Homo sapiens: one gene and its partners. The protein of the gene in region 2 purifies or fractionates together with the protein of the main gene of each other region. This does not show direct contact. Each region holds a gene or a part of one and is shown on either strand. Other genes may lie near its edges. The genes, in order: CRYBB1, KIRREL1, KLHL13, VLDLR and EHD3.

Region 1 (3,523 bases), on a different chromosome or scaffold from region 2:
CCTTCTTGTATCCAGCTGGGTCGCCTTTGAGCAGTCCAACTTCCGCGGGGAGATGTTCATCCTGGAGAAGGGCGAGTACCCTCGCTGGAACACATGGTCGAGCAGCTACCGCAGTGATCGGCTCATGTCCTTCCGGCCCATCAAAATGGTGAGTGGCTCTCCGGCTGGGGCTGGAGAATCAGCCAGGCGGGGCAGGGCAGGTGTAAGTCTGAGATCTGACAAGGGCAAGAAGGAGATGATGGTGGGTAGGGAGGCGTGGCAGCCTCCGAGTTGTCAAAGGACCGTGGATTCTTGAGCTCATCAATTCATCAGTGTCCTTAACACACTCACTACATACCCAGCTAGGAACCCTGGGCAAATGATAAGCACAAAAGCTTCCAAGTTAGAGCTAAAAACTTCAGCATCTTCCTTGATTCTCTTGATATCCCTGGCTGCACATTTAGACCTTACTGGGAGCTTTTTTTTTTTTTTTTTTTCCCAAAGATGGGGTTTTGCTGTGTCCCCCAGCCTGGTGTACAGTAGTGTGATCATAGCTCACTGCAGCCTTGAACTCCTGGCCTCAAGTGATCCTCCCGCCTGGGCCTCCTAAAGTGCTAGGATTACAGCCGTGAGCCACCATGCCAGGCCTGGGAAAACTTTTCAAATTTCAGTGCCCATTCGAAACACCAAACATGCTGGTTGCAGATCATGCAATGGCTAAGAAGAGGGATATTGTAGCCGGGCATGGTGGCCCATGCCTGTAATCCCAGCACTTTGGGAGGCTGAGGTGGGTGGTTACCCAAGGTCAGGAGTTCAAGACCAGCCTGATCAACATGACGAAACCCCGTCTTTACTAAAAATACAAAAATTAGCCGGGCGTGGTGGCGCATGCCTGTAATCCCAGCTACTAGCAAGGCTGAGGCAGGAGAATTACTTGAACCCGGGAGCCAGAGGTTGCAGTGAGCCGAGATCATGCCATTGCACTCCAGCCGGGGTGACGGTGCCAGACTCCATCTCAAAAAAAAAAAAAAAAAAAAAGGAGAGGGATACTGTAGAAACGCAGCTTGAACCTCTTAATAATAAGACAATATACTGAATTAGTTTCTTATAATATTTAACTAAGTCAACTTCCAGAAGATTCAAGGTCAAAATGGTGGCGATATCTCCAAGTGATTCACAGTTTTTTCCAGAATTAAGTTGATGATGAGTCATGAACCAGCTACATCTTACTCACCAATGTTAGTTGCTGATGGTAACCGACTTTTGTCTTCCATGATGGGAACATTTATAAGAATTTTCATGAATGTGCATTTGAGGCTATCAAGTGCCAACCACCAGCTGTTTTGACATCACCAAATTTATCTTAATGGATTATTCAAACAGATCATTCCCAACACTTTTCGCAGAATGTAAGACTGAATTATTTGCCTTCATGATGCACTCTCTGTAAGAATTCACAGATGTCTCTCTCAATCATTGAATGGTTCTTATATGCCAACCTATGTTAAGGGGTTTGTTTGGAAGAGTGATCAACCAGGGCATTTCCAGTAGCTTCTAGAAGCTTGCTATTCAACATAATAGGCAGTAGCCATATGTGGCCATTGGACACTTGAATTTTGGCTAAATGGAGATGTGTCATAAGTGTAAAATACATATTAGGTTTTGAATACATAGTAAAAAAAATTTTAAAGAATGTCAACAATGCATTGATATCATTATATTGGTTACATATTGAAATTATAATATTTTAGGTATATTTGTTTAAATAAAATATGTTATTAGAAATGTTTAGAAATCTCAAAGCCTAGACCCCACCCCAGACCAATTAATTCTGAATCTCTAGGGCTGGAACTCCGGCACTGCTATCTTTTCTATGCCCTCTAAGTAGTCCGTCTGTGCAGCCAGGGCTGAGATCCAACCATCTAATTCAGGGGTGCCCAATATTTTGGCTTCCCTGGCCCACGCTGGAAGAATTGTCTTGGGCTACACATAAAATACACTATCACTAACGATAGCGGATGAGCTTTAAAACAATTGCAAAAAAAATCTCATAATGTTTTAAGAAAGTTCACAAATTTGTGTTGGGCCACATTCAAAGCCATCCTGAGCCACATGTGGCCTGCAGGCCGCAGGTTAAATAAGCTTGGTCTAACCCTTCCTCTCTCTGCCCTGCCACAGTCCTGGTCCAGGCCACCATCATCTCTGACCTGGTCATCTTCAGCTCTCTCCCTGCTGGGTTCCCTGACTCCTTTCCAGCCCCCTGTCGTGGGAAGTTAGAGGGATCTTTTCAAAATAAAAAAAAAAAATAAACCTGACCATCTTCTACTTGAACCCAGACATTTTGGTTGGCCTGTTTCTATTTTCCTTTTTTTTTTTTTTTTTTTTTGAGACACATCTAACTCTGTTGCCCAGGCTGGAGTGTAGTGGCACGTTCTGGCTCACTGCAACCTTCACCTCCCTGGGGCAAGCAATTCTCCTGCCTCAGCCTCCCAAGTAGCTGGGATTATAGGTGTGCACCGCCACGCCCAGATAATTTTTGTATTTTTTATAGAGACAGGGTTTCATCATGTTGGCCAGGATGGTCTCAAACTCCTGATCTCAAGTGATCTACCCGCCTGGGCCTCCCAAAGTGCTGGGATTACAGGCATGAGCCAGTGCGCCCAACCAGTTGGCCTGTTTCTGCCAGGCTCTGGTTCTAGGCTCTGAGTGCAAAACTGTGCATCAAACAGACTAGGTCCCTGTCTTCATGGGACTTAAGCTACCCAGGGAGGCAGCTATCAAAAAGCTAATCATAAAAATCCATCTACAATTGCAAACTGTGGTAGGTGTTACACAAAGGCCATGCAATCTAACTAGGAAAGCAGAAGCAGGAACTGGGGGCTCAGATATTGTTAGAGGTGGGAGTGGTCAGGGGGTCATCAGGGAAGCCAGCTCCCAAAGTTTGGAAACCAACTCAGCCACGTGAAGAGCAGATGGTAAAGCCTTCCAGGGAACAGTGTGTGCAAAACTCCTAGAGCAACGATGGACTGGTGGGACCAAGAAAATTAAAGGTGGCCAACAAAGCTGCAGCAGAGGGAGTGGAGGAAAGAGGGAGGCAAGATGGGAGGGGAGGTGGTGGTGGAGACCAGGGTCTTGTAGGGTCTCATAGGTGGTGGCAAGTTCAGTCTTGACCCCTCTAGCAGTGGGGAGCCATTGACTAACAACCTTCCCAAGGCCCTCAAGACCGTAACAGTAATAAGTAATCATTGTTGTACTTTTACCACTGGCTGGTAATTGCACTAAGGGCATTTGTCTTGCCATGCCCCAAAGGGTCCCCTGTGCTTACATCCCTGCCTGGCACCTTGCACTTGCCTTCCTGCACCCTGGCCACACAGATATTGTCTTGCACATTCCCACCTCCCAGCTTTTGCCTATGCCTTCTCTGCCTCAGTGCCTTCCCTCAACCCTCCTTCCCTTCTCAGCTTTGTGCACTCCTCCTTAACCTCCAAGGTCCCTCTCTAGTGTCACTTCTTCCATGAAGCCTTCCCTGATCTGCTCTGCTTTT
Region 2 (3,082 bases):
TGCCCCCAGGACCCCACCAATGGCTACTACAACGTGCGTGCCCATGAAGACCGCCCGTCTTCCAGGGCAGTGCTCTATGCTGACTACCGTGCCCCTGGCCCTGCCCGCTTCGACGGCCGCCCCTCATCCCGTCTCTCCCACTCCAGCGGCTATGCCCAGCTCAACACCTATAGCCGGGGCCCTGCCTCTGACTATGGCCCTGAGCCCACACCCCCTGGCCCTGCTGCCCCAGCTGGCACTGACACAACCAGCCAGCTGTCCTACGAGAACTATGAGAAGTTCAACTCCCATCCCTTCCCTGGGGCAGCTGGGTACCCCACCTACCGACTGGGCTACCCCCAGGCCCCACCCTCTGGCCTGGAGCGGACCCCATATGAGGCGTATGACCCCATTGGCAAGTACGCCACAGCCACTCGATTCTCCTACACCTCCCAGCACTCGGACTACGGCCAGCGATTCCAGCAGCGCATGCAGACTCACGTGTAGGGGCCAGAGCCTGGCTGGGGCATCTCTGCGGGGCAGAGGAGAAGGCTTTCACAGCTGTTCCCTGATATTCAGGGGCATTGCTCATTGCTCCCTTCTCGGACCAGCCTTCTTCCTCCCACCATGGCAGGTGGGGAGCAGGTCTCCCAGAAACACCCCGTCCCGAGGATGGTGCTCTGTGCATGCCCCAGCCTCCTGGGCCTGCCCTTCCCTCTTCTTCGGGAGGATGTGTCTCTTCTGACCTGCACTCTTGCCTGACCCTAGAATGGGGACAGGGAAAGTGAAGGTTAGGGAAAGCAGAGGGGGGCACTTTTTAGCATTCCCTTTCTATCCCACCCCTCTGATCTCCCATAAGTGGAAATGGGGGTACCCAGGGATGGGCAGGCTTTGGCCTAGGGACATGAAGTATGGGAGTGGGTGGCTGTGGCACAGACAGGTGGAAAACGGGATAGCCTGGCCAGTCCCTCTGTTGTCTGCATTCGTGCCCTGGGTGCCTCTCTCCTTCCTCAGGGTACTGCAGAAGGGAGCGAACAGGGTACTGTTCGCTCTTGTCTACAGAACAGCCCTGGCACTGCATTCAAATCCAGTCTTCATTCAGCTGGGATCAAAATGCCAGTCACCTTGGCTACCCACTGTGGACAGCTGTCTGTCAGCATGCAGAGGGATCCAGGAATCCCCCCGGCAGCACGGCCCGCTTTCCTTCTCCTCCATGCTGGGCCAGCCAGATAAGTCAGGGTCCTGGTGGAGAAAGAAAGGCTAGGACCATGTCCTCATTGACCCAGATACTGCTGTGTGCTGCACAGCAGTGAACCAACACTAGAGGGAGCCACACAAGCCTCCTCTCCCCAGTCTGCCCCACTTCCTGGCTTTAACTCTTGAGCTGGTTTGGGGAGTGGTGAGGTAGGGGTGGGGGTGCTGTAGGCTCTTTTTCAAAGAAAACAAAAAACAATGAAAACCTCATTTGGGAAGAAAAGCTGTAGGGATTCCCCCACCCAAATACAAGTCCCAGTGGAAAGGAAAGGTAGTACCTATTCTTCTCCATGGGGTTCCTAACACCCTCCATTACTCTTTCAGTCTCCAAGCACTTTGAATCCATTTTTAAACATTCAGGTTGCCAGACCTGTCACACAGTGGACTCTGATAGGGTTACGGAGGGGGCCTGGCTCTCAGTCTCTACTCTCCTATGTCCCATCAGTTGGTTGGAGGCCACCTTCCAGGGGGTATGGGAGACAGGTTTTGGTTTTTAAGTGTCTTTTTTTTTTTTCTTGGACCAATCAGATTCCTTCTTCCACTTTCAGTGCCTTGAGTGTCAAGCTTTGGATGACCGACCCTATGTGGGCGGTTGTGTGGGGAGTGGGTACTTGTGAGCCTCGGACACACTGTTAAGTGTTACAGTGTTAGGAGAGAGATGGGTGAGGGGACCTGGAGAGGTAAGGGGCCTGGAAATGGCCCTGACAGAGAACTTGTGCTGACCGGGAGAAGGTGGTGCGGAAGGGCACCGCAGGCATTACACAGGCCATTTCTCCTCCTCCATGTGCACGCACATCCAACACACACCTTCCATGTGACTGCTTCTCAGCCACCACTTTCTGACCAAAGAGAACAGGCGCTCCAAGGAGAACCTGTACCCCTGCCCCAGCCTCGCCTTCCTAAAAAGCAGTGTCTGGAGTTGGCTGTTTCCCGCCTCCCCAGCTGCATGTCCAGCCCAGTGGGAGACAGGGCCTCTGGTGCAGTTCCCAAAATGTTCCTCGCCCTTTCTCCGTGGTCACCATTCATAATTCATGTTCGCTTTAATGAGTTACATGCTTATCAGCCACAGGCCATTACCACCCTTATGGATGGGTCTGGGGGGCGACATTCCTGGCCAACCCCTTGTAGGAAGGACCAGATAATACCCAGGAAGCAAGTAGCTCTAATTTTAACTTCACAGGAAGTCTGTGCATCCTCCTTCATTTCAGCAGGGAAAACTCCTGTGGAGTGGGCCCTATCTGGGGCATTTACAGGCTTCCAGCTGTATTCCATCCCTGGAAGCTGATACCTTTCTATAGAGTCCTTTTATGAGAGCTCAGTGGGAAGGTCTGTCAAGAAATTCAGGTTCTTGTACAGACAAATTCATGCAAATTTCTATTATTTTCACAAAAACCAGAAACCATGGGGGAATCCAAAGACTTGAAGTCTAAAGATGGTGGCTTTTAAAACATGCATATTCCAAAAAGAATTCATTTTTGTTTTGGGTTTGGCTAGATTCTCTTATTTATCCCCTTTTAGCTTAAGTATTAGTTTCATTCTACTGAAATGATGGAGAGAGGGCCTAAGGTTACTAGGTAATTGAGCTGATGGTGCAGGGAGAATTGTTGAGAAAGGAAGCCTAGTTTCCAGAAGCCTGACACAGAGCTACTTCACTGTCCTCTACTCCTTAACAAGGTAACTGGAGCCTCTTGGGTGTCAAACAAGCACCCTGGAAGGCACAGGGAAGCATCAGCAACCAAGGTAGTCTCTGCCCTCTGTAACTTACGTGTTGGTGCATCAGAATCTGAATTGGAACCTACCTGATGGGCCCAGTGGAATAGCTTTTCTGGGGAGTGGAAGGCGTCCTTGA
Region 3 (3,523 bases), on a different chromosome or scaffold from region 2:
AAGAAATCATGGCACTTTCCTTAATTTGGCTCAGGATGACCATGTGTTGCTAAGATCAGTGTAAAGCAATGTTAAGAGTCTATAAGTACAAGCTTTAAGTGTTACTACTAAATTAAATTCTGGACTTGAGGCATTTTGAAAATCACATTCAATATGATTCATTTTTCCTTGAAATGAAGTTGTTATATCATGCCAGTGACACAACCAGAGGTGAGATCCTAATAGCTCTTGAGGGAATGGGCCTTGCATGATCAAATTTAAATAAAATTTAGCACCTAAATTCAGTAATGGAGGCAAGCAATAGCATGGGAATTAACCAACTTCACTTGGGCTACTTTCGCAATAAAGAAGACAATACAAGTCAACAATATAGCACCATGCTGCCATAAAAACCCTTAAAAGTAGCAATTAGTTCAAATTTTATAAGTAATTGTGAGACAGCAGTCTGAGTTTTCTAAAATCAAACATACAAAAAACACACTTTCAATAGGCCAGTTAAATTAGTTATTGGCTGACTTTTAAGATAGTTAAGTACCTTAATAATAAAATAATTAAGGACATGGCTCTCTTGAAACTTAGTGTTTTAAAGAAGGTTCCATGTTCAAAAAATGTAAGTTGTAAAGATCTAACAGCAATTATTTACCTATATTAAGATTCATATGAGTTAAAAAATTATAGAAAACATATCCATCAACATAATGAGTTAGAAAATATACCAAAAATTAATATTGCCAGAATTCTTAATCAGAAAAACAAGCTCCAAGACCTCTGGAAGTCTTGGCAATATTTCTGTCCAATGTAGCCATTTATCTCCCCAGAAGTAAAATTTAAAGGTCTCAACTAAAATAAAACACTCTCTTCAGGAACTGGGTGACTATCATTAAGTACTCCATCGATTGGTAGTTGTATGTGTCCTATCTTATCTATTAAAAAATGGCTAAACACTATTCAGTAGGTGATATGTTTCTATGGAATCAAGACTTACATTCTTACAGGTTTGCCCATAGGTATTAGTTCTTCTTAAGATCTAGCTCCCTTATTAAAAGAAGAAATTTTAAAGAGTTCTAGAAGCTCAGATTACTTTTCCATTCAATTACATTTAAGAAGCCTGCTTGTATAGTCATTAAGGTGAATAAAACCAGATTATGGTACATACCATTATCAAACAGTTAAAGTATATATCTTCATCAAACATTATTAGTATCTCATGTCATTTGATTACACAGAGGCTTTTTTTTTCTTCCTGAGATGGAGTCTCACTCTTGTTGCCCAGGCTGGAGTGCAATGGCGTGATCTCAGTTCGCCACAACCTCCACCTCCCAGGTTCAAGCGATTCTCCTGCCTCAGCCTCCCAAGTAGCTGGAATTACAGGCATGCACCACCATGCACAGCTAATTTTTGTATTTTTAGTAGAGACGGGCTTTCTCCATGTTGGTCAGGCTGGTCTTGAACTCCCAACCTTAGACGATCTGCCCGCCTCGGCCTCCCAAAGTGCTGGGATTACAGGCGTGAGCCACGATGCCCGGCCAACACAGAGGCTTTTATTAAATGATTCTATTTCATAAAAATGCACCTGTTTCAATCTCACCTTGCTTACAGACCACATACAACAAGACACATCTGTCTAATGGCAAGTTTCACATTCCTGCACAGCAGATTTCATGAGTCCTAAACAGGCTACATCAGAGTCTACCACAGGAAAAATCAGATTTCAAAATATCTTACCCCAGATATGAGAAACACTTTACAGAAGTCCAAAACTGGCAGAATCTGTAGGAAACTGGCAGCTTCCAGCGTGTCTTGAAGGTTGTCCATATTAAGAGAAAGCTTTGCAGTATAAATGAAATCAATAATTTTCCTTAGACCGACTTTGCTCACACCATGAAGTTTAATGCACATTAAATCTTGTTCTTTCATTCCACCTTAAATAAAAAGACATTCAATTAAATGAAGGTGGATAATTATGGTCAAACTCACTTCTGCTGCTAATTAGATGCAATAAAATCAAAGGAAAGTCTTATCTTATATAAGCAGTCATATTAGAGTCAGTCTGCTGCACATTTTACTGTTAAAAGAAAGTACTTAAAAAAGATAATCTCTATACTAATGGAGGTCATATATGATGCAAGTGCTTCCAAAATGTTCTCACTTCCTATTTTTTGACATAGAGTAGAGATTGTACTAGGAGGACACAGAGTCTCTGATGGCCCACTAGATATAAGCTTGAAAAAGAAAAGCTGTGAGATAAAGATGGACAGTATGAAAAAAGTGCATCAATTTTCCATGTTAAAACAGCACCACCGAAAACCATACATACTGTTGTGTACTTCTTTTGAAGCTGTTTCCAAAAGAACCAAATTTCATGTTAGAAATAAAAAAGATTTAAACACGGATTTTTCATATTGTTTTAATGTGGTTTCAGAGTTTTAAAAGGCAAACTACCTGTGAACATAGCCTTGAAGTAATCACTAGCAGATGCCATCATGACTCTATGCACAGGGAAAGCATCATCTGTGTCACCTGGCATCAGGGTCACATCACAAAGCAATCCTTCAAGTCGAAGCTGGTCAAAGCCCTACAACAAGAACATGAGTTGAGTCACTAATCAAGGTAAAATGAGGTTACAAATCTTCGTGTGCTAAAATTGTTTGAATATTAATGTGGTGCAACATATGTGGAACATAAAGCCAACAGAATATTCGGGAGAAGAAAAAATAACTGCACAACTTTCCTGATATGTGACAATGCATGTTTTCTTTCACTGTAGGAATAACACAAAATTAAGACTAATTTAGGTTAAAAACGATTAAGGAAAAAGTATATACTTTTGCTTATTTACACAATTATCAGCTTTTACCTTATTTTGAAAAATAATTACAATGTGCACTTCTACTTTCCCATCTGCAGAATGAGAGTATTAGACTGTCTTAACATTCCTTTTCGCGATAATTTAATAGTCCTTTTATAGTGCTTGACTGAAGCATCTTGGTTTTGTTTTGTTTTGGGGGAGGTTGAGAAAGAAAAGTAGAGAGCAACTGTATTAAGTACACGATAGTTCTTTCTACTAATTGTATTACTTCATCTCTTTGAGAAGCCTATACTCAGTACATTGCTGCTGCCTGGCCAAATATCTTTCAAGTTTCAAGTTTGAGACTTAATTATCTTTGTTTGAAAAAAAACAAAAAAAAGCCCAGGAAACCCCAACATGAGACTTAATTGTCTCCAAATGCCTAAAGGTTTAGTGGAGAATTAACAGGCTAGCAGCCACAATTCAGAGGAGTGACAGAGCTCTGGTGAGAAGAATCCTTGTTGATTAGCTTTTTCACTACACCCTGATGGTCTCAACTAACGACAAATAGACAGTTGTTCTATTGATATAAGTTGGAAGAATGACAATCACTTTTAAGATTATAACAGGTTGAATCTACAACATACACATATTTCAAAACATCATGTTTTTCAATTTTTATCTTTTATTTTTAATTTTTGTGGGTACAGAGATGTATGCTTTAGGGGATGGATA
Region 4 (3,523 bases), on a different chromosome or scaffold from region 2:
CTGGAACAGACCCTTCCCTCACAGCCCTCAAGAGGCACCAACCCTCCTGGCACCTTGATTTCAAACTTCTGGCCTCCAGAGTTTTGAGACAATAAATTTCTGTTGTTTAAGATAGTCTGTGGTACTTCATTGCAAAAATCCTAGCAAACTAACAGTAGAGAAAGCTTGTAGCACAAAAGCTACTTTGGAGGCTACTGCAATAGTCTTGGCAAGAGGGGCTGAAGGCCAAGGGGACATGAATGAAACAGAAATAAAAGCTCTGACACTGAGGCTTGGGAGGAAAGCCAGGAGCTGAAGTTGAGAAGCCATTTCTCTGAGGCAGCAGAAATAAAAAAATAACATGTGAAATGTTTAAGGTAGGGTACAGGAGGGCAAAAGTTCCCTTTTAAAGAAAACTGAGTTGCCAAGAGCTACTGACATCCAGCAGGTTCTGTGTCATGCTGCTTCCCTTAAAGTAGTTATTAAGGACTGTGCTTCTCCACGGTACCTGATGGCTGTACAAGTTCATGATAGACAATGATGTCTTGGGCATCATTCAGGTTGTTGACTAGAGTGGCTAGCTCTGATCCAGTGAATTTATTGGCACCATAGACTGCTTCATTTTCCCCATCTATCCAGTAGACACGATCCTAAAACAGAAGCCCACAATTAGCATGTACATCCAGGATTAACACAAGTCCATTTCTAAGGTCATCATCATTTACTTCTCATTTAATGGACTAAGTTTACTGAATGCTGAACTGGGACACTGGATATAAAACTGTAAAAGAATCAAGTTTAGGTGTGGAGTGCTTCTGGGACTTAGTGTCTGATTTGTACCAGGTTTTAAGTGAAAGCAGTTTCTCAAGCCATGTTCAGCTGCTCTTCCCTCCTCCCGCTATGTCTGTTATTTCTTCTCAAAGTGATATAGTAGCTCAAAGGTACACACTTTGATGTGAGACACATCTTACCTCAAATATTGTTAGTGCAAGAGGATGAGCTAGGAACTCCAGAGACTTTAGTACTATCCTACGATCTTGGCCATTCAAGTCCACGCTGGATAACATGTGCAACTTAGAATCAAGCCAATAGAGGCGACTTTTTATAAGGTCTAGGTAGGAAAAGAATTGTCATTACATGACAAGCCACTACTACTCTGGCTTCCATTAAAAATATCTAATGAATTAATAATCTACTTTCACGGTTCTTTCCCCAGCAGGGTTTCTTAACGGGGTCACCATAAACCTTGCGAAGCAGCATGCAGAGCCTGTATCCACGTTCATTTTTGGGGACTAACAGGGTACCTGAGATTCTCAAAGCAAATGACTTAAGAAATATTACTCACATTACAGAAAATATTAAAAGAGGCTACCATTTTGTTGTTCTCCTCCAAAAAGCCAGAAGAAAACTGTTAAAAGCCTGCAATTCAGGAAATGCTAAGGCACTCATGCCCAGAATATTTAGTATGAGTGCACCCAAGACCCAACGTTCACTGAATTTGTGTCACATATTAGGCCCAGCTGGACAACAGGCCAGTAATTATGGAATGTGTAATTTGTTAATCCACCATTTTACTTGTGTTGTTCAGTTACTCCCATTGAAAATTCCTGCTAGAATTTAGGCGGAAGCAGTAGAGTCATCTGCTAGTCCAGAATTCACCATGGAGATAAATGGAAACACTATGAAGATAGTTGAGTGGGTGGTCGAGAAGGAAGAACATACATACCAAGTGTAATTCCGTTAGGCCACTGGATATCCGCTGTCACCAGTGGACGTCTATCGAATCCATTCATTCCTGCTTTTTCTATTTTAGCTGGTTCACCCCAGTCTGACCAGTAAACAAAGCTGTGAAAAATTAAATGAGAAATAAGCCTCAGTGGTTTAGAAGGAATAAAGTTGTAGTAGCTGGAAACAAAAATTTAAAATTTGAGCAGAAAACTCAAGGCATTCTCTAGTGACAAATAGTAACACTTAAGGGTCTAAATTATGTTCTAGGTAAATAAAATTGAATATTAAGAATCTACAAGCTCATTATTAACTATAATAATCTATGTTTGTCTGACATTTAAATTTCGGCCCAAAGTCACAAGGTTATGTTTCCTTTTTAAAAGGTCAGTTCTTACAGAGGAGTGCAAGACGAACATCCTTCAAATTTCATAGCAGGGGTTGGCTGGCTGACTGAGTTCTAATGAGGCTGCACGGGGGCCAGTTGTGATGACAACTACAGCCTTAGTCAACTTCCTGAGCTGCTCTTCTATGTTACTTAGTGGCAATTTACAGAACCCCCTTAGTGAAATGTTTCTAGAAAGGTCTGTTTATTTCTGCTGGACTTTCAGACAACTTGCACACTTAGATGCAATGTGGTTACCCAAATCCTCACAATTCAGGCTGTCGTTTAGGTTTGATCATCCAGAGCTAGCCCAGCAAAGCTTTCAGTCAAAAATTAAAAAATCACTTGCGTAGAAACTGGGTGGACAAAAGGGTTCAGATACAGCTTTTGGTACACACATCAAATCAGGAATGTTAATTCATTAATGTCAGCCAGCAATCAGTCATACGAGAGTCAGACAGGAGGACCTGTCATATAGATAAGGACATCCCAGGGTCACTCACCTGGGGCAAAACTGATATCTTAAATTAGAATTCTAATTCTTTGTTGCAGAAGGCTCATAAACCTTGAGATTTGAGTACTAATTCAGGTATGAGAAAGCTCCTGACCTACACAGATACCATTCCAAAGTCTGTGATGGAAAACAGACTACAAACCCAGACAGTGGGTCCACAGCTATGGAGGCAGGCTCTCGCAAGTCAGAGTTAAACAGGAACTTCCTCTTGGTTCCATCTAGGGTAGCTACTGAAATAGTCTTAGAAGCCGCATCAGTCCAGTAGATGGTCTTGTACACCCAATCAACAGCAATGGCTGCAGGATTATAGACATTGTCGATCATTTTAACATGTCTACCAACCTTGTCATCAATTGAGGCACTGAAACAGAATAGGTCACAAGAAATTTAAGAGTTTGACACAATTAGAGCTTGGAGAATGGACTTTTTGCTTACAAAATGGTCAATGACTTTGTTCAGAAAGAAATCCAGTTAACACCACAGCTCACCACTCAAATTATTTAACCATGCTGCTTACTGATCCTAAATTAATAATGCTGTAGATTATCTAGTTGCTGGTATGTATTCTATATACAAGAACAACAAATTTCTAAGTGAAGCTATTTGTTTCAGTATCCATCATCTGAGTTTCTATAGTTCCCATTAAGAAAAGGCTGTACTACCATTTCTATTTGTAGCAACAATGAACAGTTCTCAATTAACTGTAGAGAAAAGGGAGAAAATATAAAAAATATGAAAGATGTCATCTTTTACTTCATAGACAATTGTTAGTTTCTAATTAGGAAGTGATAACAGTTTAATAAAGAATTAGCATTAGATTTAATGTCCCCAGGTAATTCGATGCTAGATGGGGCTAGACACAAAAGAAACTCCTCCAAACTATCCCACAGATCACTTCCCAAGTGACAATGACTTATGTC
Region 5 (2,423 bases), on a different chromosome or scaffold from region 2:
GAATTCCTCCTGAAGGGCCTGCCTGAGGTTGTTTTACTGTTAACATTTTTTTTAAATAAGTAGAAAGAATACACCCTAAAATAACAATAAAAAGTACAGTATAGTAAATATTTACATAAACCAGTAACATAGCCGTTATCATTATCCGGTATTATGTACTCTATGGAAATGTGTGTGCTAGATTTTTATACCACTGGCAGCACAGTAGGTTTGTTTACACCAGCATCACCACAAACACATAATGCGTTGTGTTGTGTACAGTAGCTACAATGTCACCAGGCAACAGGAATTTCCCAGCTCCCTTATTGTCTTCTGGGACCCTCGTCATACGTGTGGTCCCTCATTGACTGAAACATTGTAATGCAGCACATGACTGTATTTTGAAAACTCTCCTCAGGTGACTCCGATGAGCATCCTGATTAAGAACCATAATTTGGGGATGACCTTTGGCTTCTGTTATGATTTGGTTTTAGTACCCTGTGCCCTGTTTGGTTTTTGTTTTTGTTTTCACTAAGTGGGGATAGAATGTGATTTTCCTACCTCAGAAGGGCGCTGGGGGAGTGAACGAGGTAATGTAGTGAAGGCACTTGCGGTGATTTTCAAGTACAGTATAACCCTTATTAAAGTAGAGGCCCACATGACCCAGTCTCAGAGGTACAGCATTCAAGAGACATGATTCAATAGCCAAAACTGACTTAAAGAGAAATGTAATGATTTCCTCTCTGGAATGACATTGAAGGGGATTGAAATAAATAGATCATGCCAATACTTGTTAAATTTCCCTTTCTTCCCCAGCCCCTACAACCCTTCTACCCCCTACTGAAAAATCCCATCATCAGCCCAGTGGGCCTTTATTCCCCTCCTCTCTCATACCTTCGATTACCACGTGATGTCCATCAGCTGAGCCTCTAGGTCACAGGTCTTTCATTGTAGAAAGGGATCAGCTGTGAACATTCTGGTGCTCATAGGAGGCACGTGATAAATGGAGGGCTCTCCTTTCATCGTATCCTATCTTCATCCTCTCTCCTCCTCTTCCCAGGACCAGCTGCAGGCCCAGGACTTTAGCAAGTTCCAGCCGCTGAAGAGCAAGCTGCTGGAGGTAGTGGACGACATGCTGGCCCATGACATTGCCCAGCTCATGGTGCTAGTGCGCCAGGAGGAGTCACAGCGGCCCATCCAGATGGTGAAGGGCGGAGCGTTCGAGGGCACCCTGCACGGCCCCTTTGGGCATGGCTATGGGGAGGGGGCTGGAGAAGGTATCGATGATGCTGAGTGGGTGGTGGCCAGGGACAAGCCCATGTACGACGAGATCTTCTACACCCTGTCACCGGTGGATGGCAAGATCACAGGCGCTAATGCCAAGAAGGAGATGGTGCGCTCCAAGCTGCCCAACAGTGTGCTGGGCAAGATCTGGAAGCTGGCCGACATTGACAAGGATGGCATGCTGGACGACGACGAGTTTGCACTGGCCAACCACCTCATCAAAGTCAAGCTGGAGGGGCACGAGCTGCCCAACGAGCTGCCTGCCCACCTCCTGCCCCCGTCCAAGAGGAAAGTTGCCGAGTGATGGGGTGGGGGGACATTCAGACGGGCAGTGTTAGAGGAGGAGATGGGAGCGGTGACTACACACACACACACACACACACACACACACACAAACATGCACACACACATATGCATATCTTGACATTGCTCTGTAGGTGAGAGAGGACCATGACGCCCATGTTTGCAGCTGATACTTGTTTGGGCACACCTCCAAGTTCTCGGGATTAGAAGGACAAGAGCACTCCCAGGCCCCAGAGTCTAAGCCTAAGTCTCTATCGCTCTTCCCCTCTCCTCGGCCACTCCCCAGATACCAGACCTGAGGCAATTCACTTGCCAGCACAGATGGCCAACCCACCTCCAGATTCCCCAGTGCTTCCACACCCGGGCTCTGAGCAAATGGAAAAGACTTTTCATTTAGTAGACAATTCACTTCTTTTTCTGTGCTTCCCCTATCTGCTTTGGCTTCCTAATAAGAAATCCATTCAAGAGCTAGGAGATCTGAGGGCAGGCGGGCAGCTGCAGGGAGGAGAGGTGAGAAAGGAAGCGTCTTCTAGAGACATTGGCCCAGGAGCTCTGTTCTTTCCTAATCTAAGCCTCTGTCTTCTTCGGCAAACCTTGCTTTGAACTCTGCCAGTATTTCATTTTAAAGAATCCCAGAGCGGGAGAGAGAAGAGAAAAAAATTGATAAGAGTGAGGAAATTGTCCTGTAGTCTATTGAAAACCAGTCAAGGTGGTTTTAGTTCATAGATTTTGTTAGATGTTCTTTCCACCTGGCCTATGATGTTTAGATGTTCATACTTGACTCACATTTACCCAGCCCCTCCTGCGTACCAGGAGCTGTGTTAGGCACTTTATATACATTATTCTATGTGGCCCTC

Evidence for each region.
Region 1: the proteins of KIRREL1 (region 2) and CRYBB1 purify together in Homo sapiens (co-immunoprecipitation; one large-scale study listed by IntAct). This does not show direct contact.
Region 3: the proteins of KIRREL1 (region 2) and KLHL13 purify together in Homo sapiens (co-immunoprecipitation; one large-scale study listed by IntAct). This does not show direct contact.
Region 4: the proteins of KIRREL1 (region 2) and VLDLR fractionate together in Homo sapiens (co-fractionation; one large-scale study listed by BioGRID). This does not show direct contact.
Region 5: the proteins of KIRREL1 (region 2) and EHD3 purify together in Homo sapiens (co-immunoprecipitation; one large-scale study listed by IntAct). This does not show direct contact.

The regions. Positions count from the first base shown.
Region 1 is NC_000022.11:26,604,514-26,608,036, reverse strand, and holds part of CRYBB1 (beta-crystallin B1), read left to right. Parts: exon of another isoform or gene 1-15; coding exon 16-148; exon of another isoform or gene 149-215; intron 216-3,523. UniProt on the Homo sapiens protein: Crystallins are the dominant structural components of the vertebrate eye lens.
Region 2 is NC_000001.11:158,094,635-158,097,716, forward strand, and holds part of KIRREL1 (kin of IRRE-like protein 1 isoform 1 precursor), read left to right. Parts: intron 1-9; coding exon 10-486; 3' UTR 487-3,082. UniProt on the Homo sapiens protein: Required for proper function of the glomerular filtration barrier. It is involved in the maintenance of a stable podocyte architecture with interdigitating foot processes connected by specialized cell-cell junctions, known as the slit diaphragm.
Region 3 is NC_000023.11:117,917,796-117,921,318, forward strand, and holds part of KLHL13 (kelch-like protein 13), read right to left. Parts: intron 2,576-3,523; coding exon 2,443-2,575; intron 1,923-2,442; coding exon 1,726-1,922; intron 1-1,725. UniProt on the Homo sapiens protein: Substrate-specific adapter of a BCR (BTB-CUL3-RBX1) E3 ubiquitin-protein ligase complex required for mitotic progression and cytokinesis.
Region 4 is NC_000009.12:2,645,775-2,649,297, reverse strand, and holds part of VLDLR (very low-density lipoprotein receptor isoform a precursor), read right to left. Parts: intron 2,965-3,523; coding exon 2,746-2,964; intron 1,825-2,745; coding exon 1,706-1,824; intron 1,091-1,705; coding exon 951-1,090; intron 630-950; coding exon 488-629; intron 115-487; exon of another isoform or gene 1-114. UniProt on the Homo sapiens protein: Multifunctional cell surface receptor that binds VLDL and transports it into cells by endocytosis and therefore plays an important role in energy metabolism.
Region 5 is NC_000002.12:31,265,138-31,267,560, forward strand, and holds part of EHD3 (EH domain-containing protein 3), read left to right. Parts: exon of another isoform or gene 1-803; intron 804-1,039; coding exon 1,040-1,567; 3' UTR 1,568-2,423. UniProt on the Homo sapiens protein: ATP- and membrane-binding protein that controls membrane reorganization/tubulation upon ATP hydrolysis. In vitro causes tubulation of endocytic membranes. Binding to phosphatidic acid induces its membrane tubulation activity.